Linked DNA regions of Homo sapiens. Changing the gene in region 4 together with the main gene of any one other region gives a genetic interaction. Each region holds a gene or a part of one and is shown on either strand. Other genes may lie near its edges. The genes, in order: LTN1, NUBP1, TIMELESS and POLE.

What was found.
Region 1: changes in POLE (region 4) and LTN1 together harm fitness more than expected from each alone (negative genetic interaction), as found in Homo sapiens cells (one large-scale study listed by BioGRID).
Region 2: changes in POLE (region 4) and NUBP1 together harm fitness more than expected from each alone (negative genetic interaction), as found in Homo sapiens cells (one large-scale study listed by BioGRID).
Region 3: changes in POLE (region 4) and TIMELESS together harm fitness more than expected from each alone (negative genetic interaction), as found in Homo sapiens cells (one large-scale study listed by BioGRID).

What each region holds. Positions count from the first base shown.
Region 1 is NC_000021.9:28,939,326-28,946,836, forward strand, and holds part of LTN1 (E3 ubiquitin-protein ligase listerin), read right to left. Parts: intron 6,963-7,511; coding exon 6,827-6,962; intron 6,627-6,826; coding exon 6,482-6,626; intron 5,272-6,481; coding exon 5,058-5,271; intron 4,580-5,057; coding exon 4,342-4,579; intron 4,012-4,341; coding exon 3,937-4,011; intron 2,082-3,936; coding exon 1,895-2,081; intron 1-1,894.
Region 2 is NC_000016.10:10,750,066-10,757,576, reverse strand, and holds part of NUBP1 (cytosolic Fe-S cluster assembly factor NUBP1), read right to left. Parts: intron 4,968-7,511; coding exon 4,899-4,967; intron 1,857-4,898; coding exon 1,824-1,856; intron 888-1,823; coding exon 797-887; intron 260-796; exon of another isoform or gene 1-259. UniProt on the Homo sapiens protein: Component of the cytosolic iron-sulfur (Fe/S) protein assembly (CIA) machinery. Required for maturation of extramitochondrial Fe-S proteins.
Region 3 is NC_000012.12:56,413,830-56,420,404, reverse strand, and holds the end of TIMELESS (protein timeless homolog), read left to right. Parts: intron 1-2,045; coding exon 2,046-2,271; intron 2,272-2,396; coding exon 2,397-2,498; intron 2,499-2,618; coding exon 2,619-2,689; 3' UTR 2,690-4,042; downstream 4,043-6,575. UniProt on the Homo sapiens protein: Plays an important role in the control of DNA replication, maintenance of replication fork stability, maintenance of genome stability throughout normal DNA replication, DNA repair and in the regulation of the circadian clock.
Region 4 is NC_000012.12:132,682,270-132,690,533, reverse strand, and holds the start of POLE (DNA polymerase epsilon catalytic subunit A), read left to right. Parts: upstream 1-3,191; 5' UTR 3,192-3,218; coding exon 3,219-3,280; intron 3,281-8,264. Other genes in the region: PXMP2 (peroxisomal membrane protein 2), read right to left, coding at 158-271, 2,742-2,863. UniProt on the Homo sapiens protein: Catalytic component of the DNA polymerase epsilon complex. Participates in chromosomal DNA replication.

The DNA.
Region 1 (7,511 bases), on a different chromosome or scaffold from region 4:
TCAAGGGATGACTATATACTAAAAACACCAAACTGTGTATGCTAAGTGGGTAAATTTTATGGTATGTGCAATATCTCAGTAAAGCTTTATAAAACAGACACAAAAACATACACATGTACATATACAACTTTTTCCAGTTCAATCTGATTTGCTAGTTTTTTTGAGAAAAAAGTTAACCCATGATTTAGGAACATTTAAAGTTTTCCGAAGAAAAATTCTGTTTATTTCAGGATTCATCTAATTAGTATTACTTAGTGGGTTATTCTGGTTTATCTGCCCACAGCTCAGTTCAAGTTTCAGACTCAATAATAATAAATGCTGCCGTATAATTTTGCACCCTAACCCAATCCCAGCTTAATGAAAAAGGTGACACATGGCCATTTTCCTAATTTCTGAATATAAAATGAGAACAAAACTCTTATACACAAATGCCTCAATCTGCTGCTATTTTTTAAAGATCAACAATATTTTAAGAAATTGATGTAAAAGCCAAATAAGGAGCTCTTGAAATATATCATCAGCAAATAAAACTAGCTTAAGTCACAAAAATAAGTGACAGGCCTAAAGAGAAAACTAATCTATTTAACAGCTAGATCAATGCTGCTTCTGTGATTTGACTTTTCCCCACAGATATACAAATGCAAAGATGCAAAAATTGATATCTTTGTACCAGGGTATAGGGTATGAGCAACAACATAAATTATAATTTAAAAATTCCAAAAAGTCACATTGGAAATGAATGCCATGAATACTTAATCACACTAAATGATAAACTAAATCTTTTTGTATTGACCTGTCAAAAGAAGGCACATATTTTATTAGGCTAATTCAATCAAAGATTGACAGAGATTTGGATCTTCCTTGTTCTTTTTGAGACAGGGTCTGGCTCTGTCGCCCAGGCTTGAGTGCAGTGGCATGATCTCAGCTCACTGCAACCTCCACTTCCCCGGCTCAAACTATCTTCAAGTGGGGATCCTTCTAACAGAAAAACTAGAGAGATCTTTCCAGTTTCTTCTTGGACAAGGTCTTACTTCCTAAACATGAGACAACAGAGACATCTAGTGGCTGCTAGAATAATTTGGACAAAATATTTCAGATATTTTCACCACTTAGGTAACAGTTTGAATTATTACATAGGTAATGTTTCACAGATCTCTCTCCAAACAGTGATTTTCAAGTAAGGTAAATTTCCAATGATGTATTAAGTTATATCTCCACAACAGAGTGACAAACTGACTCCCTCCGAAAAAAAAACAAAAAACACAAGATCCAATTCTTTTGAAATCATTACTATGATAGTACAAAATTAAATTATATAAATATTATTTCCTGAAATAAAAGAACCTGGTGACTACATTCAGTTAGAAAAAAGTTGATCTGGCCACCTATCAGAGTAATTACTTTTGCTTGGAAGGTAAGGTATAAGGGACAGGAGTAAACTTATTAAGCAGATGGAAGTTAGTTGGATAAAATGAGATTAGGCTGGGCGCAGTGGCTCATGCCTGTAATCCCAGCATTTTGGGAGGCCAAGGTGGGTGGATCGCTTGAGCTCAGGAGTTTGAGACCAGTCTGGGCAACACGGTGAAACCCCATCTCTACAAAAATATAAAAATTAGCCAGGCATGGTGGCTTGCACCTGTAGTCCCAGCTACTTAGTGAGAAGATCGGTTGAGCCTAGGAGGCAGAGGTTGCAGTGAGCCGAGATTGTGCCACTGCATTCCAGCACAGGCAACAGAGTGAGACCCTGTCTCAAATAAACAAAATAAAATAAATTTTAAAAGATGAGATTAAAACATAAGGATTTTCCTTTTATTAAACTGAAAGGAAGGTATTTAGAACAGTATCAGAAGCATATTAGGACAGAACTATCGAAAGTTGTCACATATTTATTTACCTGTGATGATGCAGCTTTGAAGAAAGTTAGTATTAATTTCCAAGTGAGAAGGTATCCCAGAACATAACAGAAGTCTTCACTCAGTGGTTTAATAGTAACTATCTGTCCAACAGGAATACACCCCAAAACATTTTCTAGTAAGTCCTCTTGAATGCTAAGAAGAGACATCAGTGCTGCTGGTGGTGACCTAAGAATCAATGATTAAACACCACAAGTTTTCTTTATAATTCATTCCTTAACAAATTGACAGTACTTGTAAACTTCAAGCATTTTAGAAAAATTTCTCTGTTTTCCAAAAAACGTTTTAAAAATTCCCCTCTATTGAGCCAATTTTAACTCCTAATCTCACATAACAGTAAAATAAAAAAGACATATTATAGCACTTGAAGGAAAGACATTTTTAGAAAACGTCTCTTTCAATTTTCTAAGTGAAAAAAAATCACACACCCAGAGAAGCCAAATGATGAGTCCAACGTCTTTCAGTTAGTAGGGGAAACTGTTAGGGATTCTAAATCCTACCCGGCCTTTTATCATCTTATAAAAGACAAAGTGAAGATTAAGACTTCGAACTTTGTCACTTCATTCTAGTTTCTATTTTATTGCATATTATCTACTTAGTACTATTAAGAAATATCACAATGATACTATTAATCGGATAAACACAGAAAATAATTATGTGCCTGTTTAAAAAATCATGATTGTAATCTTTTTAGGAAAATAAATGTACCATTCAGATTAATTCACAACAATGTAAGTTAATTTTCTTCTTTATTGAACTACTCTACTCATTTATACTTTCAGGTGAACTTATGAGATTCTCAAAAAGTAAAATACTTAACTCTCTTCTCCATGATACTCTAGCCTGGTTCTCTCCTTTCACTTCTGTGATCGTTCTTCCCTTGTGGCTTCCTTCTCCCAGCCCACAAGTACAGGCCTTCTCCAAACTTCTGCTCTTAGGTCTTTTCCTTCAACACCTCCATCTCATGTACCCAGCCTTCTATATTCCATACTGATAGTCACTAGATCTTATAAAATACCAGCTCCAAAATCTCTCCACTTTTCACATTGCCCTCCATGCATTGTTATTTAACTTCTGCAATCAGCTCCACCTCTGCTTGCTTCTTTTTACAATTCATGTTTCACATTAGTGTCAGAATCGGCTGGTGGCGCCCTATCTCCTACCAAGTAATGACCAAATCCCCCCAAAAAAGTCATTTTTAAGGCCATTTATTATAGGCCAGGAAGCATTCTGGCCTACAGCATTCTAGCCTATTTCTCTCTCAGAAATAAGAGAGAGAAATTCCTGCCCTCACAGAACTTACATTCCAGTAAAGAAAGATATTATCAATAAAACTATACATTAAGTGGTAACTACTCAATATTCCCCAAGCACATCCTCACATTCATGACTCAGTGCCTTTGTACATGATGTTCTCTTAACTTATGTTGTCTTTCCTGTCCTGCAGAAATGCTACCTAACCTTAAAGGTCCAGTTTAAATGCCTCTTCCTCAAAAGAAAGTCTTCCCTTCCTGATGTACATTAATTGTGCCCTCATACATGCTATCTTATATAGGCCTAACTGACCTTTAAAAAAAAGTTATCTATCCTTTTTCTTAGCACTTATCATATACTATATTTTCCATAACGCTACAGTATCATCTGTATCAGATAAATTCCTTAAGGAAAAGAAAGTGCTCACTAAACACTGCATATTCCCCTCAGCATTTAATTAATACTCTGCACAAAGTGGATGCTCAATAGATACTTGAACCGATACACTCTTTCCACAGCCACCATATGGCCAAAGATAGTTTTACTGAACAGTAGCAAACGGAAAATGTGATTTAAGAACAATTAAGAGAGTGACACAATCTTTTGGGTGAAATCTATATTTCATTTATATCTTACAGATAACTAAAAAGATCTATCTGTAGAATGAATATAACTCTATAGCTTCTGTGCTGCTTCAGTCCTCTAAAGACATTATAAGTGAGATGGATTATAAGAATTTAATAAAACAAATTATTTAAAAAAACCTTACAAGGCTGGCTCTTCTTCTTCATCTCCGTATGACTTTAGATTATCCTGATCATACTGTGGTAATTCAGGCATCAATCTAGAAATTAGAACATTATTTTTAAATATGTGATATTAAACTGTTTATTAAGTCGTGCTCAAGAGCAGAAAGACCAATACTTATTTTATAATGAGTAAATGTTTTAATGAGTTTTCTTTAAAATAACTACTATAGCCAGGACTATTGAAATATAAATTGTGTATAGAGAACAATAACCTAAAAGATGAGGCAACTTAGGGTCCCTATAAGTGAAGCAGTCAGATCTCCTTCTTTTAAAAATTTTACTTTAAATAATTAAAAGTAAAAACTAAGCATATATTCTATTTTTTTAGACCACTGTAACATTGATTCAATTGGATGAATTCTTACTTGTATAGCATATGATAAACAGCAATTTGCACAGGCCTAGCTCTGAAGAGGAGTAATGGGGCCAATGTATTTAACAAAGTCTGGAGATATTCTGGTAAGTTTGTTTTTTGGTCAGCAACTAATCTTGCAGGAAGTTTGTGACTCAATAGCTGTTCCTTTGAGATATACGTTAATGTTTCACACATGGGTTTCAGCATTGCATTCTGAAAGGATGTTTCAGACACATCTTTGTTTTCTCCTAATGACAAAAAGGAAAGAAACATGCACGTCTCAAAAGAAAGTTAGTATAGCTTAAATGATTCACAAACAATCAAATGTCATTTAAGAAAATGAAATAAAAACTAGACATAAACAATAAAGCAGTCTTAACTAGAAACATGAACTGAATATATATTCCAGTTAATCTCAACTGTTTTAATGACTTTTATCTGATCCAGCAAATGTTCAATAGCAAGGTTCTATTCACATCATCCATTCATGTTATCTGAAGTATTATTATTTTAATTTGCAACAGTCATTGGATACCTTGCCATTTTTCAATTTCTGTCTGTAAAGTAAAGCATAGATGATGCTTCTGAGAAGCCAAGCTTTCTCTTCTGGCTTTTTCTTTTACTATTTAGTATTATTTGATTTAAACATCAAAATTTTTGCTTTTGAATTTTTCAGTAAGTCATTTCCAATGAATCAATCTCACTATTATTCCCTTTTTCACTTGCCTGTAACAGTCACCAAAATAGGTAAAAGCAAACTGTGGATGCCTTGGGAAAAAAATTCTTTCCATTCACTGATTAGATTTACAGGAAGATTGCCAATGGTATCCAGAGTTGTGGAATCAAAGAAAGCACTGAGGTCACAGGCCAAATCACAGCTGACACAGGCAAACAGTTGCACAAGTGGAATAGAATACAATGCCTGATTCTCACTTGTTGTCTGAAAAAACAATAAAAATGAAATAGGTAAACAGACTTCTACCAGAACACTACAAATAAAGCCAATATAAAGAAAAGCCCCACTTTCATTTCTTTGAATTTTAAAACGAAAAGCAGTTGAGGTGTGTAATCTCAGGAGAAACATAAAATTTTACATCAAAATAACTTTTTTCTTCAAAATTAAATACCATGAATAGAATCATTAATAAACAATTTATTCTCAAGTACCCTTTTTAATTTCTAACCCATGGAAGGAAACACTAAGTCAGACACATTAAATACACATTTATAATCTTCTCAGTAGCCCTACAAGTTGTAAGTTATTATTTTAAAATAAGAAAATCGGCCAGGCACAGTGGCTCATGCCTGTAATCCCAACACTTTGGGAGGCTGAGGCAAGTGGATCACATGAGGGCAGGAGTTTGAGACCAGCCTGGCCAAAATGGTGAAACCGCATCTCTACCAAAAATATAAAAATTAGTCGTGCATGCTGGTGGGCATCTGTAATCCTGCTATTTGAGAGGCTGAGGCACAAGAATTGCTTGAACCCAGAAGGCGGAGGTTGCAGTGAGCCAAGATCGCACCATTGCACTCCAGCCTAAGCAACAGAGCGAGATTCTATCTCAAATTTAAAAAAAAAGAAAGAAAGAAAGAAAGAAAACTGAGTCTCAAATAGTTTAAGTTTAAAACTCTAAGTCACATAGCTAATAGCAGGCAAAGCAGAGATTCAGACCAATCCAACCCTGACTGACTTGCTGCCTTGGAGCCCACAAGTAATATACCTCTGGTTGCTTTGGGTCAAAAATTACACTAATTCCCTCTGAATCTGCTACTATTTAATGCATTACTCTCACAATATTCACACAGTATGTTTTAGAAATAATCTAATTATAACCAAAAAAGACCAAAATAATTGTCATTAACAGATAAAACCTGAAAGGGCTGTGCTGCAAATATTACAATAAGCTAATGGAGAAGGCATTTTAATAACAGGAGATTTGGTCACTGAATGATGCTGGTAGTCATTAAAAATCTATCATTTTACTATTCTGTCAAATAGTAGCTGGTAAGAAGAACATCTATAAAGTGTTTTAAATTATACAAAGGAACCAATTACAATCATCACTTAAAGAATGAGATTAGTAAATAGTTCTGATGCAAAAGTATGTACAAAAACCCACAAGAGGTGATGACATATCGGGTTAATTTACCTCCAACCAAGCCAACATGGAGCACATGATGAAGTCCCACTCACTCTCTGCCAAAGGGGATGAGCAGTATTTCAGAAATAGGGAAAGAAACCGGATTATTTCTATATTTACACCCAGTACCTCTGGACTTGCTTCTGATAGATTACTGTGATAAAGATAAAAACAAAAGACAATAAAAGATTATATTGACATTCAATTAGAAAGTATGCTACTTTAAATCTTACATACTTATTTATAACTGACTTAAATGTCTACCATAATTTCTCTACAAAATTGTGACACAGATACGTAATCTTTGTCTGAATTGTATACTGAAGGAAAAACATAGTATAAAGTATCACCTACCAACTGAAAAGAAAAATATCTTCATGCTCTTTCTTCCAGGATATTATGATTTTTAATATTCCATGTAATAGCTCTCCATCATCTATACTTTTGGTTTGCAGACAAGAATTGAAAATGGCAAGATGTCCAAAACCTCCTAAAGTAAAATTCAAAATGAAAATTAAAAATATTTAAGAACTATATCGCTACTATTAAAAAAAAGTCCACTTTGAGAAGTAAAAGACTTTCTTGAGAAGTGTTCAGGTTAAGAACTCTAATAATGACTTTTATCTAAGAGTCAACAAATGAGCTTATAAGCTCCAAAGGGCAGAGACCCTGTCTCCAAACCCAGCACCTAGCACACAATAGAGAATTTGGGGGAGGAGAAAGAGTGAATGATGCTGTAATTTAAACTGACTTATGCTGTTTTTGTTTTGGTTTCTTAAGTGCAGGACATATTCAGCAAACTCATCATTCAAATAAAAAAAACCCTACAGCTACAGAGTAGCTGGAAACAGCAAATGGAAAATAGAACATACTGTTTCATAATTTATACATTCATTCACTCAATAGCAGCTAGTACATGTGGTAAACTCTGATGTGGACTCACTCTTTAGAATCTCTACCATTCCTCAAAATCCATCCACTGGTGTATCTTAACACCCTCTGTCCCCAACCTTCTATCTTACATACCAGCCAAAATGAA
Region 2 (7,511 bases), on a different chromosome or scaffold from region 4:
CACAAATAGAGTAGGGGGTGCTACTGGCATCTTGTGGGTAAAGGCCAGGGACACTGTTTAACACCCTATGGTGTAGAACACGGTCTACTCCTCCCCCCAACAAAGACTTATCTGGCTCAAAATATCAATAGTGCTGAGGCTAAAGCTTGCCCTGATAACACTTTCACATTATTACCTTAAGTCTCAGTACCAGATCAACCTCCTGTTGATCTCACCTCTCTGACCCAAATAAGCCACTATAAAACCATGATAAAAATAATTTCAGGGTTCTATAGCTTTTTTTTTGAGAAAAAGTCTCGCTCTGTCACACAGGCTGGAGTGCAGTGGCATGATCTTGGCTCACTGCAACCTCCGCCTCCTGGGTTCTCCTGCCTCAGCCTCTCGAGTAGCTGGGATTACAGGTACGTGCCACCATGCTCGGCTAATTTTTTATGTTTTTGGTAGAGACAGGGTTTCACCATGTCGGCGAGGCTGGTCTTGAACTCCTGACCTCAGGTGATCCACCTGCCTCGGCCTCCCAAAGTGCTGGGATTACAGGCGTGAGCTACCACACCCGACCAGGGTTCTACAGCTTTTAAGGAGAGAAAAACTCACAGCAGATATTTATAATTACGTAATGGAAACTGGTATTTCTATTAGCTCTTTTCAACCAGTGAAGAAAGAGGCACTGGATGGTTAAAAATAATATACTGTGAAGTCCAGCAGGCTGAGACTGGCAGGACAGGGAGCAGATAAAGCCAAGAGCCACAACGCTCGTGGAAGAATGTGAGAGACAAAAAAAGGCAGAGTGGCAAACCGTTTTTCTTGGGTCCCCTCCAGATAACAGCATCATCAGGACTGCTGAGCAGGAAGCCCACTGACATCACCCCCAGGTTGTCTTCCACGTACTGCAGAGGGAACAGGGTGAGGGCAAGACACGCTTTACTCAAAACCACACAGTGAGGCCCTCCCCCAGGTCTTCTGTTTGAGCTCTGACTGAAAAAAACATTTTCAGGACAAAACTACCATGTGACCTATGAGCATATTCACTCTTTGCTCCTAAATCATTTTTGGAAAAAAAAAAAAGGGTACCATGTTGGGGGATTTGAAAGAGGCACTGTATGTCCATGGGCTGCAGTGACGGCAATGACAGGGAACTCAGCTAAAATAAGTAAATGTCATCTCCTTAACTCTTTTATTTTTTTATTTTTCATTTTTTTGAGATGAAGTCTGGCTCTGTTGCCCAGGCTGGAGTGCATGGTGCAATCTCAGCTTGCTGCAGCCTCTGCCTCCCGGGTTCAAGCAATTCTCCTGCCTCAGCCTCCCGAGTAGCCAGTGTTACAGGCGCGTGCCACCATGCTCGGCTAATTTTTGTATCTTTAGTAGAGATGGGATTTCGCCATGTTGGCCAGGCTGGTCTCGAACTCCTGGCCTCAAGTGATCTGCCTGGCTTGGCCTCCTAAAGTGCTGGGATCACAGGTGTGAGCCACTGCACCCTGCCTCCTTAACTCTCTTAACCAGAGATTTACAAACTATGGACTTCAGGGCCAAATCTGGCCCACCATCTGTGTTTGTAAATAAACTTTTATTGGAATACTGTCCTGGTTGTTCAGTTACATATTACTACTTTTGTGCTACAACAGCAAGGAATGTAGGCCCACATGCTGAAAATCTTTACCGTCCCACACTTTACAGAAAAAGCCTGCCAATCACTGGTTTTAATCACATCCTCTGTGCCTCGAAAAGTACCCTAATAAATACCTATGGACCAACAAACCACAAACCCATTATGTACACACAACCACACACTACTGTGAAAATAGGGCAAAGAGGTGAAAACTCACCACTGGAGACCAGCCTGAGCCACTCTGGTGAACCTGTGTGAACATGAGCACCGATGTTCATTAGTAGAAATCATGTACCCTGGTCACATTTCATGCACAGACAAATTGTACAAAGTAAGACGATGGTTTTTTAAAATATAATTCATTGTCTTACATGGTACCACGAAATTCCTAAAAGGAGGTGAACAGCTAGGGCGTGGGTAATAAAGATGCAACTCAACTCCCTTTGTGCCCTAAGCTGGGTTATTTGGAAACTCTACTTGGATGTCTAGATAGGGAACCAAAGTTACTCAAGTTCAAATATGATGTTGTGTCTAAGGTATCTTAAAAGAGTCATAAAAATCGGCTGGGGACTGATGAGAAAATGCAGATACCTGTGGAGCAATGAGGTGGCTTTTGTAAAAGCACAGGAGTGAAGGGAATGAGCTCTCACGAAACAGCTGATTCAGAACCTGTCCCCAATCAGCTCCAGCCACAAAGGGGAGCTTCCTGGGGCAACAAGATTCAGACCTCTTCCCCCCAGCAGGTGTCCAGCAGCACACAAAGCGCACACTGAAAGTTTAATTTTCTTGATGAAGCCTTACTTTTCTCAACAGATTTACTGAGACATGATTCATAGACAATATGACTCACCCATTGAATGAGTGGCTTTCTGTACAGTCACAAGCATGCAGCCATCACCACAGTTTTATTTTTTATTTTTATTTTTGAGATGGGGTCTTGCCCTGTCGACCAGGCTGGAGTGCAGTGGCGTGATCCTGACTCACTGCAACCTCCACCTCCCAGGTTCAAGTGATTCTCCTGCCTTAGCCTCCCAGGTAGCTGAGATTATAGGTGCCCGCCACCATGCCCAGCTAATTTTTGTATTTTTTGTAGAGACGGGGTTTCACCATGTTGGCCAGCCTGGTCTCAAACTCCTGACCTCAAGTGATCCACCCGCCTTGGCCTCCCAAAGTGTTGGGATTGCAGGTGTGAGCCACTGTACCCAGTCACCACAATTTTAGAACATTTGCCTGACTCTTAAGAAGAATCCCTATACCCCTCAGCTGTCACCACCCCCCACAGTCTGTCTCACATCCTCCCAGCCTTACAGGACCCCTAATCCACTTTCTCTCACTGTGGACTGACCTATTCTGCACATTTCATGTAAGTGGAATCACACAACATGCGGTCCTCTGTGACTGACTTCGAAGTTCTATTAAAAGACACCCAGCCAGGCACAGTGGCTCACACCTGTAATCCAAACACTGCGGGAGGCTGAGGCGGGAGGATCACCTGAGGTCAGGAGTTCGAGACCAGCCTGGTCAACATGGTGAAACCCCAACTCTACTAAAAATACAAAAAATAGCTGGACGTGGTGGCGTGTGTCTGTAATGCCAGCTATTCAGGAGGCTGAGGCAGGAGAACTGCTTGAGCCCGGGAGGCGGAGGTTGTGGTGAGCCGAGATCGCGACACTGCACTCCAGCCTGGGCAACAAGAGTGAAACTCTGTCTCAATAAAATAAATAAAATAAAATAAAATAAAATAAAATAAAATAAACCCCACAAAACCATTCATTCCTATTTACACTCGTTTGCTAAGTCCATTTGTCTTAAAAGAGGGGTAAACAGGATGATCCAATAGTGCAGGAGAAGAAAATAGGGAAACTTCTATTTTCTTTTATTTTAAAATTTTCTGTTTCATGAAATAATTACGTGTGATGACAGTAGCTTATACCTTCACTGTGGCGTGTGCTACCAAATCCATTGGGGTATGTGACCAAGCCTCACAGGGTGACATCGCTCTCCTTCCCTACTCCCTCGGAAGCAAACCCCAAGGCCTTAGAAGTGCCTGCAAGGCCGGCCCCATCTGCTTCGGGCCACCCTCCAGCCCCTCTGGTCACTCCACTGAGGACACAAGGACACCTTGTGTCAGCGGCCCATGCAGTTGCTCCCTTAGCCCAGAATGCCCTTCCCCCAGCTCTCCCCTCCTGTCATCCTCTGCTCAAATGCTATCCCTCAGTGAGGGCACCTTTGACCACCCCTCAGCCCCTCTGACTCTGCCCTACTGTCCATCCCCTCACTCTGGGTTGGTTTCACATTATCTAGCATCTGCCTTCTCCCACCCAGACAGGGGTCTTCATGGACCTTGTTCACCACTGCATCCCCAAAACAGGATTAATGCATTCCTGGCACTAATTAAAGAAAGAACCAATCTTGAGACTCTCGGGACATCCCAGCACCCCCAGCCCCAGCTTCCATGCACTGCCCTTGGGGGAATCCTCTCTTGGAGAGCTTCTTGCTAGCAAGAAGAGGCCAGCAACTACATAGACTGCTACAGCCCTGCCCCCAGCCCACATCGCTCACCCGCCCTGCAGTCTCAGTTCCCCAGGGGAGACCACAAGGGCAGAAATATTCCCTTGCTTCCAGGGTACAGACCCATAGCAAGCCCTGGTCTAATGTTCCCAGTCAGAGCTAAATTTCCGTGTCTTACTTCTGCATTTCACTGGCTGTTTCCCTTCCCCTCTGAGGAGGCATCGAAACCAATGCTTCTCCAATGGTGTAGACAGACTTCATATACAATCCCGCCCCTCCCCCGCCAAGACTCACAGTTGTTGTTAAAAGTAGACAGATGGACTACTGAGCATGTATGAGCTCCTCATGTCCACATAAACATTTACAGGCCAGGTGCGGTGGCTCACGCCTGTAATCCTAGCACTTTGGGAGGCTGAGGCAGGTGATCACTAGAGGTCAGGAGGTGGAGCCCAGCTTGGCCAACGTAGTGAAACCTGGTCTCTACCAAAAATACAAAAATTAGTTGGGCATGATGGCACACCACTGTAGTCCCAGCTACTCAGGAGGCTGAGCACAAGAATCGCTTGAACCCAGGAGGTGGAGGTTGCAGTGAGCTGAGGTTGCACCACTGCACTCCAGCCCGGGCGACAAGAGTGAGACCTTGTCTCAAAAACAACAAAACAAAACAACAACAAAAAAACATTTATGGGCTCCGCATGCCTCTTTGTTGAGGTTTGACAGTTCAGTGCTACAGAGTTTGCCTTAAGAGAATAATTTCCTGAGTTCTGTAACCGGCTATTACCTGCTCTCCTTCCAATCCCATTATCTTGGGAATCGATGGCCCACATATATCGATGTCTAGAAGAGCAATCTGGGGACAAGAAGAGACCAAAGCGGTTATATAACTGAATGCACACACTCCAGACACACACAACTAGGAGGGGAGCGGGGTTAGAGGAAAAGGACAGGGGAGAAGACAGAAACTGGGTTAAACTTGGAGCCATCAGATTCTCCTGAGGGAGAGTCCTAACGCTGATCTCAAGGTTCATAAACACTGATGCCCCCATTCCCCTACCCCTCAGCCTGGCTGAGCTCCTCAAGGGTGATCTTACAGACCTGGCTGTCAGGTCACTTGGAGGCTCGGGCTCAGACCTTGTTTACTGAGCCCTGGTTGGAGGAGACGGGGAAAGGGACCTAGCGCCTGTTTGGCTTGTGTGACAGAATGGATGGAACAGCCAAGAGACGGCAGTGTTGGAGCCACCCTAAACAGCTCTCTTTTGCTCACCCCTCACCAAGCCTTGGTCTCTGCATCTTAAATTTTTCTCAAACTCATCCTATCTTGTTCAGGAGTCTCAGATACAAGCCAAATCTAGACTATTTAAGCAGAATATGAATGTATTAAAAAATATTGGGGGCTGGGTGCAGTGGCTCACGCCTGTAATCCCAACACTTTGGGAGGCTGAGGCGGCCATGTGCCTAGAAGGTAAGTATCATTATCTCTGGTTTACAGAGGAGGAAACTGAGGTTCAGAGGGGACCAGTTCAATAAGCAGGGAACAGAGCTGGGACATAAACTGAGGTCTTTCGGCCCCAACTGGGGCTCTTTCCAGTACACCACGGGCCTGCTGTGGAGGACCAGAGTGGAGCCTCTAGCTGAACCCTGACCAAGCCCTGTTTTCCTTTGATCCTGAAGGTGAATGATGGTTTAGGCTAAACTTACAGAACAGAAACTTAAAGTAAGATGGAAACCTGGAAAAGCTCTTTAGTTGTGACTCAGGTGCAGCTTCAGGCGACCCCATTCCACCCCAAGCCTTCCCCTCTGATACAGGAGGTCTGAGACGGCCTTCAGGAACCTTCTGAGAACAGGGCTAGTATTCATCTTGAAAGCTGCAATGACTCGGATCCAAAGTGCTGCACCTCCGCGTCACTTTTTAACTTGCCCTGAATTAGTTTCTTGCCACCCTCTTCAATCCTCTCAACAAACCCAGCCTCCTACTTCCTCAGCACCCAGCGCTGTCTCAAACTTGTGCACGGGAAAACGCCATCCACAGACCAGCACTGGCCTCAGGTGCCCTCTATGGAGCCATCCGGGGAGAACAGCAGAGCGACATCATCGGAAAACCTGACTTGCTCTCTCCGGACCTTGATACTTGGGACTGATGTGTCAATGATCCACGGGGAAATGACACTATCACTATGACTGTGATAGAGACTTTCCTCGATACTCTCAGGTTTCTAGTGACTCTGTCTCCATGCCCTTCCTTTAGGGAACAATTTAATCAATTCCCTTTAGAGGAATTTCACTCCCTTGGGGAGTGAATCTTGAGCGAAATGATGTAAGGATATGAGAAGCAGATCCAGCGCACTCTCTCACTCCCGTGGCAGGCCCGAGAGGCTGTTGACAAGCTCCTGCTACCCAGATGGCCAGGACGGCCCTGGGTCCTGTCTGTTCAGACTTCCTGTTGATCTTATTACTACCCCAAAATCTGTCCATTTAATTTTGCTTAGGTTAGGCCAGAAAAGCAAAGCTGAGAGCAATGCGCCTGCGTTCCTCCCAGCAGGACCTCTGGGCCTGTGTTTGCAGCTGATGGGAAGAGGCCGCGTTTGCTGCAGAAGGTGGAGATGCTGCAAGGCTGTCGGGACCCAAAGCGTCTCCTTTACTCAGCACCCCAAACTGCCCCTGATGAGGAGGGTAGGGGAAGAGGGATTTAGTCCTAACTTTTAGTCCTTGCACAAGTTGCTTCTGCTTTCGAAGCCTTGGCTGTCTGGGCTTCTGATCTGTGAGACAACTGCTCCGGGGTCATCAAGGCCCCTCTCAGCTCTGCAGTCCCAGGACCCAGAGGAGGGCCTCGCACACTCAGTCCTGAAACACCTAGTGCTGACCTTGTTATGACAGTTTGCCTTTCAGATCACAAAGATCATAAATGTTTAATTTATGGTGGCTGGGTGTGGTGGCTTACGCCTATAATTTCAGAACTTTGGGAGGTTGAGGCAGGCGGATCACCTGAGGTCAGGAGTTCGAGACTAGCCTGGCAAACATAGTGAAACCCTGTCTCTACTAAAAATACAAAAATTAGCTGGGTGTGGTGGCACACGCCTGTAATCCCAGGTACTCCAGAGGCTGAGGCAGAACTGCTTGAGCCCGGGAGGTGGAGGTTGCAGTGAGCTGAGATCACACCACTGCACTCCAGCCTGGGCAAAAGAATGAGACTCCGTCTCAAAAAAACAAACAAAAAAAGTTTAATTTATGGAAGTTGGTGACTTGTTATTTATTCATTGTTTTTGAGGTAGAGTCTCACTCTGTTGCCCAGGCTGGAGTGCAGTGGCATAATCACGGCTCACTGCAGCCTTGACTTCCCAGGCTCAAGTGATCCTCCTACCTCAGTCTCCTGAGTAGCTGGGACTACAGGTGCTTA
Region 3 (6,575 bases), about 76 Mb from region 4:
GCTAGTCTTCTTTTCCTCTCTCTAATCTCCCCTTCCCCTAGATCCATCTTCCAGACTGCCTCCAGATTTATCTTTTTAAAATATAGTCTTGATTACAGTTGTCCCTTAGTGTCTGAGAGGGGATTGGTTCCAGGACCCCCCTGCCCACAGATACCAAAATCTATAGATGCTGAAGTCCCTTTTTGTAGTATTTGTAAATAACCTAGGTACAACCTGTATACTTCGTCATTTCTAGATTACATATAATACCTATACAATGTAAATGTTAGGTAAATAATTGTTATACTGTATTGTAAATATATATATATACATTTTATTTATATATATATATATACACACACACACACACACACACATATATATATATATATATATTTTTTTTTTTTTTTTTTTTTTTTGAGACAGAGTCTCACTCCATCACCCAGGCTGGAGTGCAGTGGCTCAGTCTCAGCTCACTGTCGCCTCAACCTCCCAGACTCAGGTGATCCTCCCACCTCAGCCTCCTGAGTAGCTGGGACTACAGGCCTATATTACCACTCCCAGCTAATTTTTTGTATTTTTTGTAGAGATGGGGTTATGCCATGTTGCCCAGGCTGTGTATTATTGTTTAATGTTGTATTGTTATTTTTTTTTAATATTGTCGATCTACAGTGGTTTGAATCCACAGACTCAGAACTTGTGGATATGGAGGGTCAAGTCCTCTGTCCAGAGCCATTGATGGTTCCTTACTGCTTGCAGGACAGAATCCACAAACTCCAAATGGCATCCCCATCCTTGGCCAACCTTTGCAGCCTCACAGCCACACCACTCACACACCGACTTTACATCATAGTCACCCTGGTAGGCTTTTTCATGCCTCCAAATGGTTAATCATGCCAGTCCCTCTATTGGAAGGCTGCAACCGTGCACACAGGGTGACACACACACACACACACACACACACACTCCATCTGTCTTACTGATGGACCTCTACCCAGTCTTCAAGAGTCTGCTCAATTGTCACCTTGTCAGAGAAGCAGTCCTTGTCATTCTTTCAACCCCTGAAGTAAAAATAATCACTTTTGCAGCTGTGATTTGTTCATGCCCCTGATGCAGCCTTAATCCTGTGGAATCTGCTGGGTATGGTGGCTCACGCCTGTAACCCCAGCACTTTGGGAGGCTGAGGCAGGCGGATCACCTGAGGTCAGGAGTTCAAGACCAGCCTGGCCAACATGGCAAAACCCTGTCTCTACTAAAAATACAAAAATTAGCCCGGTGTGGTGGTAGGCACCTGTAGTCCCACCTACTTGGGAGGCTGAGGCAGGAGAATTGCTTGAACCCAGGAGGGTGAGCCTTTATTGCTTTGCCACGGCACTCTAGCCTGGGCAACAGAGTGAGACTCTGCCTCAAAAAGAAAAAAAAAAAAATCCTGTGATACTACAGTACATTTGTTCTTTTTCCCATTGGATTGTGAGTTATTTGATAGCAAGGATCATACCTGATTCACCTTTACATCCCCAGGATTTATTTATTTATTTATTTATTCAATTGACAACTATAGCCAGGTGTAGTGGCTCATGCCTGTAATCCCAGCACTTTGGGAGGCTGAGGTGGGAGGATCGTTTGAGACTGGCCTGGGCAACACAGCAAGACCCTGTCTCTACAAAAAATTTTAAGTAGTTGGGCATCATGGTGGCATGCACCCCTGTGGTCCTGGCTACTTGAGAGGCTGAGGCAGGAGGATAGCTTGATCCCAAGAGATCGAGACTACAGTGGACCATGATTGTGCCACTGCACTTCAGCCTGAGTGACAGAGGCAGACCCCTTCTCATTTAAAAAAAAAAAAAAAAAAAGAACAACCAAAAAAACCTATAACTGGGAACCTCCTAATGTAGCAGGCACTGTGCTAGGCACTGGGTATATATTAGATAGTAAGTATTATAATAAATAGAGTTCACAACCCTTGTGGATCTTCACCAATATTGGGTCATATATATTCAATGAATATCATACTCTGGGAAACAAAAAGCTGGTCCTTTCCCTTTTCAACTTTTTGGCCCCTGTAGGAAACCTTCTGGCGAATTCCAGCCAAGCTGAGTCCTACCCAGCTCCGGAGGGCAGCAGCTTCTTTGAGTCAACCAGAGGAGGAACAGAAGCTGCAGCCAGAGCTGCAGCCTAAAGTCCCTGGAGAGCAAGGCTCTGATGAGGAGCACTGTAAAGAGCACCGAGCACAAGCCCTGAGGGCCCTCTTGCTAGCCCACAAGAAGAAAGCGGGCCTGGCATCCCCAGAGGGTAATAGTGCGACAGCCATCTTCTGAGTATTAACGTGTCAGCCATGTTGGTCTAGAGGGCAGGAAAGGTGTTCTGAGAATATGAGGACCGAGTTCCTAATTTTGTGTCATTTATGGTCATTGCAGAGGAAGACGCTGTTGGTAAAGAGCCGCTGAAGGCAGCACCCAAGAAACGACAATTGCTGGACAGCGACGAGGAACAGGAAGAAGATGAGGGCAGGAACAGAGGTAGGGAATTTGATGGGACCTTCTTTTTCTTCTCTAATCCTGAAGACAAACTCTACCACGTCCTTACCCCTTAACATATTTAGATATTCTCTCTCTCTCTCACCCCCATCGTTCCCACAGCACCAGAGTTGGGAGCTCCAGGAATCCAAAAGAAGAAACGATACCAGATTGAGGATGATGAGGATGACTGAAGAGCTAAGAAGCCTAGGGGTAGAGATAGACACGTTTTTAGATGGTGCATTCAAGTCAGAGTTGGAAGGGTCATACAGGACCCAGAAGCTCCTCTTACTGGACAGAGCAGTAGAATCCCAGGCTCTTTCACGGATTTAGGCTGAGAAACTTCAGCAGCAGTATTGGACTTCTCTGCTGTCAGTCTTTGTTTCTCCCAGTTTTTATCGGTATGCCCCAGCAGCTCTCTGGAGATTTAGTTCTCTTCTTCTAGGAACCATTTCTTTTGGTTATTGGAGCTCCTTAGCAAATAAGAGGAGTGAGTGAAATAGAGAAAGCACCCCGGACCCCTTTTATTGGTCTGTTCCTTTGGCTTTCTCTTGGAGGTGGGTCGCAGCACCAGATGGGGAGCTTTATGACATGACAGGCGGGAGTTTTGTACCACTTTTAGAAGATACCAGATGCCTCTGTCCTCATTTTGTTTCCTATGATCATCCTCTAGATACCAGATAGAGGCCCATTCCTGCATTTGAGATAGGGTTGGAATATAGTACTCTAGATGATGAATGTGTTTGCTTTGTGTTTGGTATTAAACATGTAAGATTAGAAGTTCTCATCTCAGTCTGACTTGGCGATATGTCTAAGTTCCCCAGCCCTTCCCCTGCTGTGCTCTTGAAAGAAGAACTTAACAATTTTAGGGTAAAAAGAGACCAACAGACCGGCACAGTGGCTCAAACCTGTTGTCCTAGCACTTTGGGAGGCTGAGGCGGGCGGATCACCTGAGGTCAGGAGTTTGAGACCGGCCTGGACAATATGGCGAAATCCCATCTCCACTAAAAATACAAAAATTAGCCGGCCATGGTGGCATGCGCCTGTAATCCCAGCCACTCGGGTGGCTGAGGCAGGAGAATTGCCTGAACCCAGGAGGCAGAGGTTGCAGTGAGCTAAGGTCACGCCAGTGCATATGCCTGGGCGACAGAGCAAGACTCTGTCTCAAAAAAAAAGAAAAAAAAAAAAGACCAACAACCTTCCCTTTTCTTCCGCTTTCCCTACAGAAGACACAGAAAAGCATTTTTGCCTCTAGATCCTTTTGTCTAGGGTAAATTCTTAGGGTGACAAGAGTATGCGGCAGGAAGAAGGAGGAGCCATAAAGGAAGAGAAGCCAGCTTGTTGGCATGGGGCATAGAAAAGGACAAAATCTAGGCATGAAAAGGATGGATAAATACTGCAAATATTATGTTCTTACCCATTCTTGGAAACGTCAGCTTTCTTGCTTCCTGTGCTTCCAGCCGAGGTAGGGCAAAGGTGAGATTGAGAAAATAGCCATTCAGCTCAGGAAGGCTTCTAAGTAAAGGATGGATTTGGATTGCCCTGTTGCTTTGACTTTTCATTTTTATTTTTTCCTGAAAAGATGAGGATCTCCCATAGCCTCTAAAAGTGGGAGTGAAGCTATTTCCATGGTAATTGAAGTTTCCAAGGGCTAGACACTTTCTAGCTCTGGCCAGTCTTGGTGTCTCTTCATCCTGAGCTTTTCTTCACTTCGCAACCTGAGCACTGCTTCCTTCCAGCAGGGCTGCTCTGTTTTCCCTCCATGATCCGGGCTGTGCTGCTCCTTTGCTGTGTCCTGCTGTCCCCAGTATCTGCCTTTTTTTTTTTTTTTTTTTTTGGAGACGAAGTCTCGCTCTGTCACCCAGGCTGGAGTGTGGCAGCATGATCTCGGCTCGCTGCAGCCTCTGCCTGCCAGGTTCAAGTGATTCTCTTGCCTCGGCTTCCCAAGTAGCTGAAATTACAGGTACGAGCCACCACGCCCCGCAAATTTTTTGTATTTTTAGTAGAGACAGGATTTCACCACGTTGGCCAGGCTGGTCTTGAACTCCTGACCGAAGGTGATCCGCCTGCCTTGGCCTCCCAAAGTGCTGGGATTACAAGCGTGAGCCACCGTGCTCGGCCTAGCAGCTGCCTTTTTTTTTTTTTTTTTTCTTTTTTGTGATGGAATCTCACTCTGTCACCCGGGCTGGAGTGCAGTGGCGCAGTATCAGTTCACTGCAACCTCTGGCTCCTGGGTTCAAACAATTCTCCTGCCTCAGCCTCCTGAGTAGCTGGGATTACAAGCATGCACCACCACACCTGGCTAATTTTTGTATTTTTAGTAAAGATGGGGGTTCATCATGTTGACCAGGCTGGTCTGGAACTCCTGACCTCAAATGATCCTCCCACCTCAGCCTCCCAAAGTGCTTGAGCCACCGCATGAGCCGGTGGCGTGATTACAGGCATGAGCCACCGCATCCGGCCGTGGCTGCCTTTCTAAGAAATGTCCAGAACTGGACCCTGACTTTCCATCCCTCTTTGAAATTTCCAGCTCCAGTTTCTTCTAGCAGTGTTTATCAGTATAGAAAATTTACTATGTATTGGCCGGGCATGGTGGCTCACACCTGTAATCCCAGCACTTTGGGAGGCCGAGATGGGAGAATGACAAGGTCAGGAGATCGAGACACTGGCTAACACGGTGAAACCCCATCTCTACTAAAAATATAAAAAATAGCCAGGCATGGTGGCGGGCACCTGTAGCCCAGCTACTCAGGAGACTGAGGCAGGAGAATGGCGTGAACCCAAGAGGCAGAGGTTGCAGTGAGCTGAGATCGCACCACTGCACTCCAGCCTGGGTGACAGAGCGAGACTCCGTCTCAAAAAAAGAAAAAAAAAAAAGAAAATTTACTATTTATTAGGCACAAGAGGTATTTTTGTCCTTTTCCGTTTATTTACCCTTTGGAAATTTTTAAATGAGAAGAGGAGTAAAAAGCTATTTCTTACATATTTGAATCACAGCCGTCTGATTTCTCCTTATTCTGGGTCTCTTGGATTAAGCTGGGAATGTGGGAGCAAGAGGTAGATACTGCTTTTGCGGCATTTCTGACACCTAAACAAGCTCTGATTAGTCAGTACATATCAATTCAGGTATAGATTGGGAGAACCTATAGATCACGATGACAGTCACACATGTATGAAAGGGAGAAAGAGAAAAATTACAGTGCTACTCAGAAAATCTTGGCCAAGTTGATACAGAGCCCCAGAATGAAGATTACATGACTGAGGAGTCCCATGTCTGGCCGACTTGGCTGGGCTCTAGCACTGTCCACCTGTCATTGTCTCAGAGCAGCCTGTAGAGAGGGATGCTGCTGTGATCACTGCAGAACATTCTAAAGAGTGGAAGCTGTCGGCCAAATAGAATGTTCACTCTGTGTTCTCTTGAAGGGAGATCTGAGCAGAACACCACAGGGCAAATAGGCAAATGTTTGCCAAAATTGTGCCCTTACTGACCTTAGAGACAAGCAACTGTCCCCTCTCATGAGACAGAGAACTGGGACTGGAATAACCTACCTGGGAAAGCCCACCTCTCACTGACTACCCTCTGGTAATTTGGTGCTCTCAAATATTTAAGTAGAAAGTGAAGCAGAGGAAGGCCCTGGTGACCAGGGAATAGGAGAAGTCAAATAAGATCAGTGCGGTACCATTTCCTATGTAACTGGGCTTTAACCTAAAATGAACACAAGCCTGGAGGTAATGGGTGAGTGAAACGGTCTGTTTTCTAACTCCCACTTCAGCTGATCATTTACTGCTACATGTTGCACACACTCTGGCTGCCATTTCATATGGAACCCAAACTAAGGCCCTGATGTCCCTTGCTTCGTATTTGCAGAGCCCTGGTTCTGCCAGACCTGGCTTCCAAAGTTCCTGCCTGGTGTCTTCCATATGTCCTCTCTACCCAGGATCTAGTAGGCCCGGCACTAAGGAAAGCCCTGGAGCAGGCTGACTCCTAAACTTGATGCCAGGCCCTGAAGATTTGGCTATACAGGGTGGGATGTGTGAAAGCCACATAGTCCCATACACACCAGCTCCAAGGATTCTGGA
Region 4 (8,264 bases):
TATATGAACCATTCGAGTTTTTTCCCATGATGATTACTACAATGGTTTTTAAAAAATTATATTTCCAAATAAGAGTACTCCAACTACTCGGTTTTGGTGCCCAGCTTGGTTGCACTCAGCGGCTACAAGGTAAACCCACCCCTTGTATGGCACTCACCCGTAAACGGCATATCTCAGAGGCCCACCGACATCCAGACTTCTAGAGTTTTCTTTTTTCCGCTTCTTCTCAATCATCTGGGCCAGGAAGTTCCCAAGTGCTGACAAAATGCCACTGTGGAGAGGGAGGTCATCAGAAAACAGCAGTGACCAGCAGGAGGGTGTCCCTTTCCCATAGGTGAATTAGCAGGGCCGTTCTGAGGCCATGCAGCAGATGGGCGGGGGGTAGGAATTCTTGTTAAAGCGGCTGCAATGTATAGTTCTTGTATCAAAAGGTGGAGACGGTGGACTTAAACACACAGGTAAGGACAAGTGGCTTTCCAGTATCTATGTCAACATCCTGGCTGTGATGTTATACTATAATTTGGCAGTTTGGGAGTTGGGAAGCTGTGTGGTTATGAACGGGCAACAGGACAGCCCTATCATGACGCTGTTCTGCATTTTGACTGTGGTAGTGAACACAAGAATGTACAGATGTGATAAAACTGTACAGAACAGATACAGCTACAAGAAAAATGGAGAAATCCGAATAGGATCTGTGGACTGTGTCCACGCAATGCCCTGGTCGATACTGCACTACGTTTCACAGAATGTAACCAATGGGGGACACTGGGAAGGTGTGCAAGGAATCTCTCCATGTTAGTCTTGTAACTGTTTGTGAATCTACAATTATCACAATAAAAATTTCCATAAAAAGGTGGAACAGGCCCAGTGGCTCCCTCCAGGCCTTGGTTTGTATTTGCCTTCTGAGAAGCTCTCTGGACTATAAAATCCAAAATTCCTAGCACGGACCTAGACACCTTCTCGATCAGATCCCTGGCGATTCCCTTCACATCTCCTGCCTCTTGCTCAGGGTTCACTTTCTCCACACACAGATCTTCCCTCCCTCGGGACTGAGTCCAAGCTGCACCTCTCTCCGCCTTTCTTTAACGCCGGCCTTCCCTTCAAAACCTAACAGAGACCTTTGCCCTGCTGTTCCCTGTGCCAGGAGAGCCTCTGCTCCACTTCTTTACACAGCCTGTTCAATGTCACCTTCTCAAAACACCTTCCCTGGCCGTGTCTCCACCCGCGCCGTGCGGACCCGCGCCCCGCAGACTCGCTCCCTTGGCCCTGTCTCCACACGCTCCATGTGGACCCGCTCCCCTGGCCCTGTCTTCACCCGCACCACGCAGACCCGCTCCCTTGGCCCTGTCTTTACCCGTGCCCCGCAGACCCGCTCCCCTCGCCCTGTCTTCACCCGCGCCCCGCAGACCCGCTCCCTTGGCCCTGTCTTCACCCGCGCCCCGCAGACCCGCTCCCTTGGCCCTGTCTCCACCCGCGCCATGAGGACCCGCTCCCCTGGCCCTGTCTTTACCCGCGCCCCCAAGACCCGCTCCCCTGGCGCTGTCTTCACCCGCGCCCCGCAGACTCGCTCCCTTGGCCCTGTCTCCACACGCTCCATGAGGACCCGCTCCCCTGGCCCTGTCTTCACCCGTGCCCCGCAGACCCGCTCCCCTGGCCCTGTCTTCACCCGCGCCCCCAAGACCCGCTCCCCTCGCCCTGTCTTCACCCGTGCCCCGCAGACCCGCTCCCCTGGCCCTGTCTTCACCCGCGCCCCCAAGACCCGCTCCCCTCGCCCTGTCTTCACCCGTGCCCCGCAGACCCGCTCCCCTGGCCCTGTCTTCACCCGCGCCCCCAAGACCCGCTCCCCTCGCCCTGTCTTCACCCGTGCCCCGCAGACCCGCTCCCCTGGCCCTGTCTTCACCCGCACCACGCAGACCCGCTCCCTTGGCCCTGTCTTTACCCGTGCCCCGCAGACCCGCTCCCCTCGCCCTGTCTTCACCCGCGCCCCGCAGACCCGCTCCCTTGGCCCTGTCTTCACCCGCGCCCCGCAGACCCGCTCCCTTGGCCCTGTCTCCACCCGCGCCATGAGGACCCGCTCCCCTGGCCCTGTCTTTACCCGCGCCCCCAAGACCCGCTCCCCTGGCGCTGTCTTCACCCGCGCCCCGCAGACTCGCTCCCTTGGCCCTGTCTCCACACGCTCCATGAGGACCCGCTCCCCTGGCCCTGTCTTCACCCGTGCCCCGCAGACCCGCTCCCCTGGCCCTGTCTTCACCCGCGCCCCGCAGACCCGCTCCCCTCGCCCTGTCTTCACCCGCGCCCCCAAGACCCGCTCCCCTCGCCCTGTCTTCACCCGCGCCCCGCAGACCCGCTCCCCTCGCCCTGTCTTCACCCGCGCCCCGCAGACCCGCTCCCCTCGCCCTGTCTTCACCCGCGCCTGCGGACCCGCTCCCCTTGCCGTGGCTTCCCCGGGCGCGCGGGGCCCCTGTTGGGTCCTTGGGTGGAACCTCAGCGCCGACCCCCGGGTCTGGGCGGGCCCTCCACGCGCTGGGAGGGCGGGATCCGCAAGGCGCCTCACAATCGCTGACTGCGGACGCGGGTGTCGCCGCGGGAAGTTCAGCGCCGGGTCGGAGGGCGCCCGCTCCGGGGGTTCTGACCCGGGCGCGCCCCCAGCCTGGTCCCGGCCCGGCGCTCCCGTCCAGGCCCCGCGCCGCTGCGGCCGACCTGGGGCCGGGGCGGCGTCCGATTCCCGCGCCCCCGCTCACCTGGTGGCCGCCTTGGTGAGCACCGGGTAGAGCCGCAGGAAGAGCAGGTACTGGGCGAGCGCCCGCCGCGGCAGCGCCCCGAGCCCGGCTTCGGCCCGCAGCCTGGACGCGGCCGGCGCCATCGCCTCCCCAGCGCCGTGCCGCCGGGGGCACCGACCCCACCTCAGGCTGGCCGGGCGCGGAGCCCGAGGCGCCGAGAGCGGAGTGGGGACCGCCTGACATTTCCGGCCCCACCGCGGCCCGCAGCGCCGCCCGGTCCCAACCCCACGGTGCGCCGCGCGCGCCTACCACACACTTTTCCCCGGTCCCTGCCGGCCACCTCCCCCGCCGGGCGCCGGCGCCAATTGGAGCGCCTCGGGGGGCGGGGGAGGGGCGGAGCGCGCCTCTTGATGGACGGCGGCATTTCCGGCTCTCGCGAGTCTGGGTGGGAGCGCGCCAAATTTCTCCCCTGAAGCAGAGGTGGTAGCCAACGGCTCCATGTCTCTGAGGAGCGGCGGGCGGCGGCGCGCGGACCCAGGCGCGGATGGCGAGGCCAGCAGGTGAGGGGCGCCCTCCTGAGGCTCTCGGGCCGGCCCTCCGGAGGGTGCCATGGGGCCGTCCTCGGCTGGCGCCGCCGAGGCGGGAGGGAGGCCCGGTTCCCGCAGCCGCCCGCACTCGCCGCGCCTGACTGGGGTAGGGCGGCGCGCCCCGACCGCCGACGGAGGGGCTCGGGGCGGGCGGAGGCGCTACGGGCGCGGCTTCTTTGCGGGGAAACGAGGCGGGCCGCGCGGCCTTTCCCTGCTCGGCTCTTTCTGAGGTTTTTCGGGCCTCGCCTTCCGCGCAGCTGCGTTTGGGACCTGCCGCGCGGCGGGGGCGATGAGAGCGGCGGGACCCGGGCCAGGCCCTGCGGGGTGGACGCGCGGCTGGGGAGGGTGCGGGGAGGGGCGGGGCCGGGGACCCTGCCTGGGGGCCTAGCGCTGGGGGAGGCCGAGGCGGGCGGATCGCTGGAGCCCAGGATCCTGTTCTAGATCAGCCTGGGCTACAGAGAGAGACCTCGTCTCCTCTGTTTTATTTTTTTGGGCAGGGAGTCCCGCTCTGTCGCCCAGGCTGGAGTGCAGTGGCGCGATCTCGGCTCACTGCAACCTCTGCTTCCCGGGTTCAAGCGATCCCGCTGCCTCAGCCTCCCGAGTAGCTGGAATTACAGGCGCCCGCCACCAGGCCCGGCTAGTTTTTGTATTTTTAGTAGAGACCGGGTTTCACCATGTTGGCCAGGCTGGTCTCGAACTCCTGACCTCAGGTGATCCGCCCGCCTCGGCCTTCCAAAGTGCTGGGATTACAGACGTGAGACTCCGCGCCCGGCCCTTCTCTTGTAAAAACAAGAAAAATTAGACAGGCTGGTGGTGCGCGCCCGAGGTCCCAGCTATTAATACTCCCGAATCCGAGCCGGAGGTTCACCTGAGCCCGGCAGGTCAAGGCTGCTGTGAGCCGGGATCGCGCCACCGCACTCCAGCCTGGGCGACGGAGCCAGACCCAGTCTCAAAAAAAATAGAGCAAGGATAAGACGCGGCTGCTTGGTGGCCAGAGCAAACGGTAAACATGACCGGAGGACTGGCCTGCCATAAGCAGAAAACGGATGAGGCCCGGCGCGGTGGCTCACACCTGTAATCCCAGCACTTTGGGAGGCCGAGGCAGGAGGATCACCTGAGGTCAGGAGTTCGAGACCAGCCTGACCAACATGGAGAAATCCCGTCTCCACTAAAAAAATACAAAATTAGCGGGGCGTGGTGGCGCATGCCTGTAATCCCAGCTACGCAGGAGGCTGAGGCAGGAGAATCACTTGAACGCGGCAGGCGGAGGTTGCGGTGAACCGAGATCGCGCCATTGCACTCCAGGCTGGGCAACAAAGAATGAAACTCTGTCTCAAAAAAAAAAAAATAGAAAAAACGTGTGAGAACGTGAAGCTTTTTACAGACACTTAGCTGAACAAAATTCTTCCCAGAGGAGAAACCAAGTGGTAAGGATCCCTAACTGCTGTTGTGCTCATCGCTGTCTGTCCATATCAGGCAAGCCCTAGAGAGGCAGGTACCCTTAGGGTCTACATGGTGTGTTGGAACTTGGAGCTTAGAGACGGTTACTGACTGCCCTGCTTCAGGACACAGGACTGCACTCACGTGCTCCACTCCACTGCCCTGCCCCAAGCTCAGTGATGGCCTCCAGGCAGGGGGAAGGCTGCTGCTGGGATAAGTACAAGTGATGGCTTTTACCTTACATGCTTTATGTGGGTTACCTCATCTCATCCTTAAAACAGTCCTGGGAGGTGAGTGTGCCCCAGGAGGCAGTGGGTGCTGTTTGCCTGCGTTTCTTCTTGTGTGAAATGGGGACACCAGTGGCCTCCCTCGTAGGGGTTGTCATGAAAACTGAATGAGAGCATATGTGGAGTACTGGGACGGTGTGATACAGTAACCAGTCAATGGTAGCTCTCTGTGAATGAGAGCCTGTGTGGAGTACTGGGACAGTGTGATACAGTAACCAGTCAATGGTAGCTCTCTGTGAATGAGAGCCTGTGTGTAGTACTGGGACGGTGTGATACAGTAACCAGTCAATGGTAGCTCTGTGAATGAAAGCCTGTGTGGAGTACTGGGACGGTGTGATATAGTAACCAGTCAATGGTAGCTCTCTGTGAATGAGAGCCTGTGTGGAGTACTGGGACGGTGTGATATAGTAACCAGTCAATGGTAGCTCTGTGAATGAGAGCCTGTGGAGTACTGGGATTGTGTGATACAGTAACCAGTCAATGGTAGCTCTCTGTGAATGAGAGCCTGTGTGGAGTACTGGGACGGTGTGATACAGTAACCAGTCAATGGTAGCTCTCTGTGAATGAGAGCCTGTGTGGAGTACTGGGACGGTGTGATATAGTAACCAGTCAATGGTAGCTCTCTGTGAATGAGAGCCTGTGTGGAGTACTGGGACGGTGTGATATAGTAACCAGTCAATGGTAGCTCTGTGAATGAGAGCCTGTGTGGAGTACTGGGACGGTGTGATACAGTAACCAGTCAATGGTAGCTCTCTGTGAATGAGAGCCTGTGTGGAGTACTGGGACGGTGTGATACAGTAACCAGTCAATGGTAGCTCTCTGTGAATGAGAGCCTGTGTGGAGTACTGGGACGGTGTGATACAGTAACCAGTCAATGGTAGCTCTCTGTGAATGAGAGCCTGTGTGGAGTACTGGGACGGTGTGATACAGTAACCAGTCAATGGTAGCTCTCTGTGAATGAGAGCCTGTGTGGAGTACTGGGACGGTGTGATATAGTAACCAGTCAATGGTAGCTCTGTGAATGAGAGCCTGTGTGGAGTACTGGGACGGTGTGATATAGTAACCAGTCAATGGTAGCTCTGTGAATGAGAGCCTGTGTGGAGTACTGGGACGGTGTGATACAGTAACCAGTCAATGGTAGCTCTCTGTGAATGAGAGCCTGTGTGGAGTACTGGGACGGTGTGATATAGTAACCAGTCAATGGTAGCTCTGTGAATGAGAGCCTGTGTGGAGTACTGGGACGGTGTGATACAGTAACCAGTCAATGGTAGCTCTCTGTGAATGAGAGCCTGTGTGGAGTACTGGGACGGTGTGATACAGTAACCAGTCAATGGTAGCTCTCTGTGAATGAGAGCCTGTGTGGAGTACTGGGACGGTGTGATACAGTAACCAGTCAGTGGTAGCTCTCTGTGAATGAGAGCCTGTGTGGAGTACTGGGACGGTGTGATACAGTAACCAGTCAATGGTAGCTCTCTGTGAATGAGAGCCTGTGTGGAGTACTGGGACGGTGTGATATAGTAACCAGTCAATGGTAGCTCTCTGTGAATGAGAGCCTGTGTGGAGTACTGGGACGGTGTGATATAGTAACCAGTCGATGGTAGCTCCCTGTGTGACACTTATCCCCATTTTTCAGATTTCTTACTGTCCCTGGATTAAAAGTGAGATACACAGCTCAGAGAAAGCAGTTTTGGGAGGAAATATGGTCCCAGTGAGCAGTTTTCTAGTCTACTTAATCCAACTTACTTGAGGCAAGGATATTTGGAGGACTGGCATAGAGGGCCGTGCGCCCCTGTTAAGAGGTGATGCCTCGTAAATAGCACTTCATTCACTCTTGATTTTGATAAAGATCTGGGACTCAGAACTGAGGCTGTTCTCTAGCAAGATTTGGAATATAGTTTTTCTGTGTTTTTGATTACGGGTGCATTCAACTATTTAAAAGATTAAACCTTTATTATACAGTATGGTGGTGTATCAGTTTCCTATTGCTGCAGTAACACATGATCACTTAGTGACTATATAAATTTATTCTCTTACGGTTTTAGAAGTCAGAAGTCGTAATATGAAAGTGTCTGGTTGGTTATATTTATTGTGATGGTTCCCGGGGGAGAATCTGTTTCCTTGCTGCTTCTTCATCTTCAGAACCAAGGGTTGCATCTCCTCTCCCCCCTACCCTCTCTCTCCCATCCCTTTCTCCTTCCTGACTCTAGCTCTCCTGCCTCACTCTACAAGGATTCTTGTGATTACACTGCGCCCACCCAGCTAAGCAGAATCTCAAGGCCCTTAATTTAGTCAGATCTGCAAAGACCCTTTTGTCTTGTAAGATAACATTCACAGGTTTGGGGGATTAGGATGTGGGTCTTTCATGGGGGGTGTCATCCTGCCTGCCTACCACAAGTGGTTATAATCTTTCATGAGAAGTAAGGATCCTAGTCTTGGAATATGGTCATTCTGCTCTTGAGTTGAAGGTGATCCAAGGAATACCTTCAGACAAAGGAAGGGTCTTCCTTTCTTTTTTTATCTTGTTCTTTTTTTATTTTATTTTTTTTTTAGACGGAGTCTCGCTCTGTCGCCCAGGCTGGAGTGCAGTGGCATGATCCCAGCTCACTGCAAGCTCTGCCTCCTGGATTCACGCCATTCTCCTGCCTCAGCCTCCCGAGTAGCTGGGACTACAGGCGCCCGCCACCACGCCCGGCTAATTTTTCGTATTTTTAGTAGAGACGGGGTTTCACCATGTTAGCCAGGATGGTCTCAAACTCCTGGCCTCAAGTCATCCACCCTCCTTGGCCTCCCAAAGTGCTGGGATTACAGTTGTGAGCCACTGCGCCTGGCCCTCAACCTTTTTTTGAGGTAATTGTAGATTGATTCTCATGCATTTGTCAGAAATGATACAGAGATTCCCGTATCACTTCACCATAACATCTTGTGTAAGTAGAGTACAATTGTCACAACTAAGAAATTGACATTGAGACGACCCATCTAATTTATTTTATCTTATTTTATTTTATTTATTTTTTTGAGACGAAGTTTCACTCTTGTCACCCAGGCTGGAGTGCAGTGGCGCAATCTTGGCTCACTGCAACCTCCACCTCTAGGGTTCAAGTGATTCTCCTGCCTCAGCCTCCTGAGTAGCTGGGATTATAGGCCCACCCCACCACACCCAGCTAATTTATTTATTTATTTATTTATTTTTATTTATTTTTTTTTTTTTGCCGGAGTCTCGCTCTGCTGCC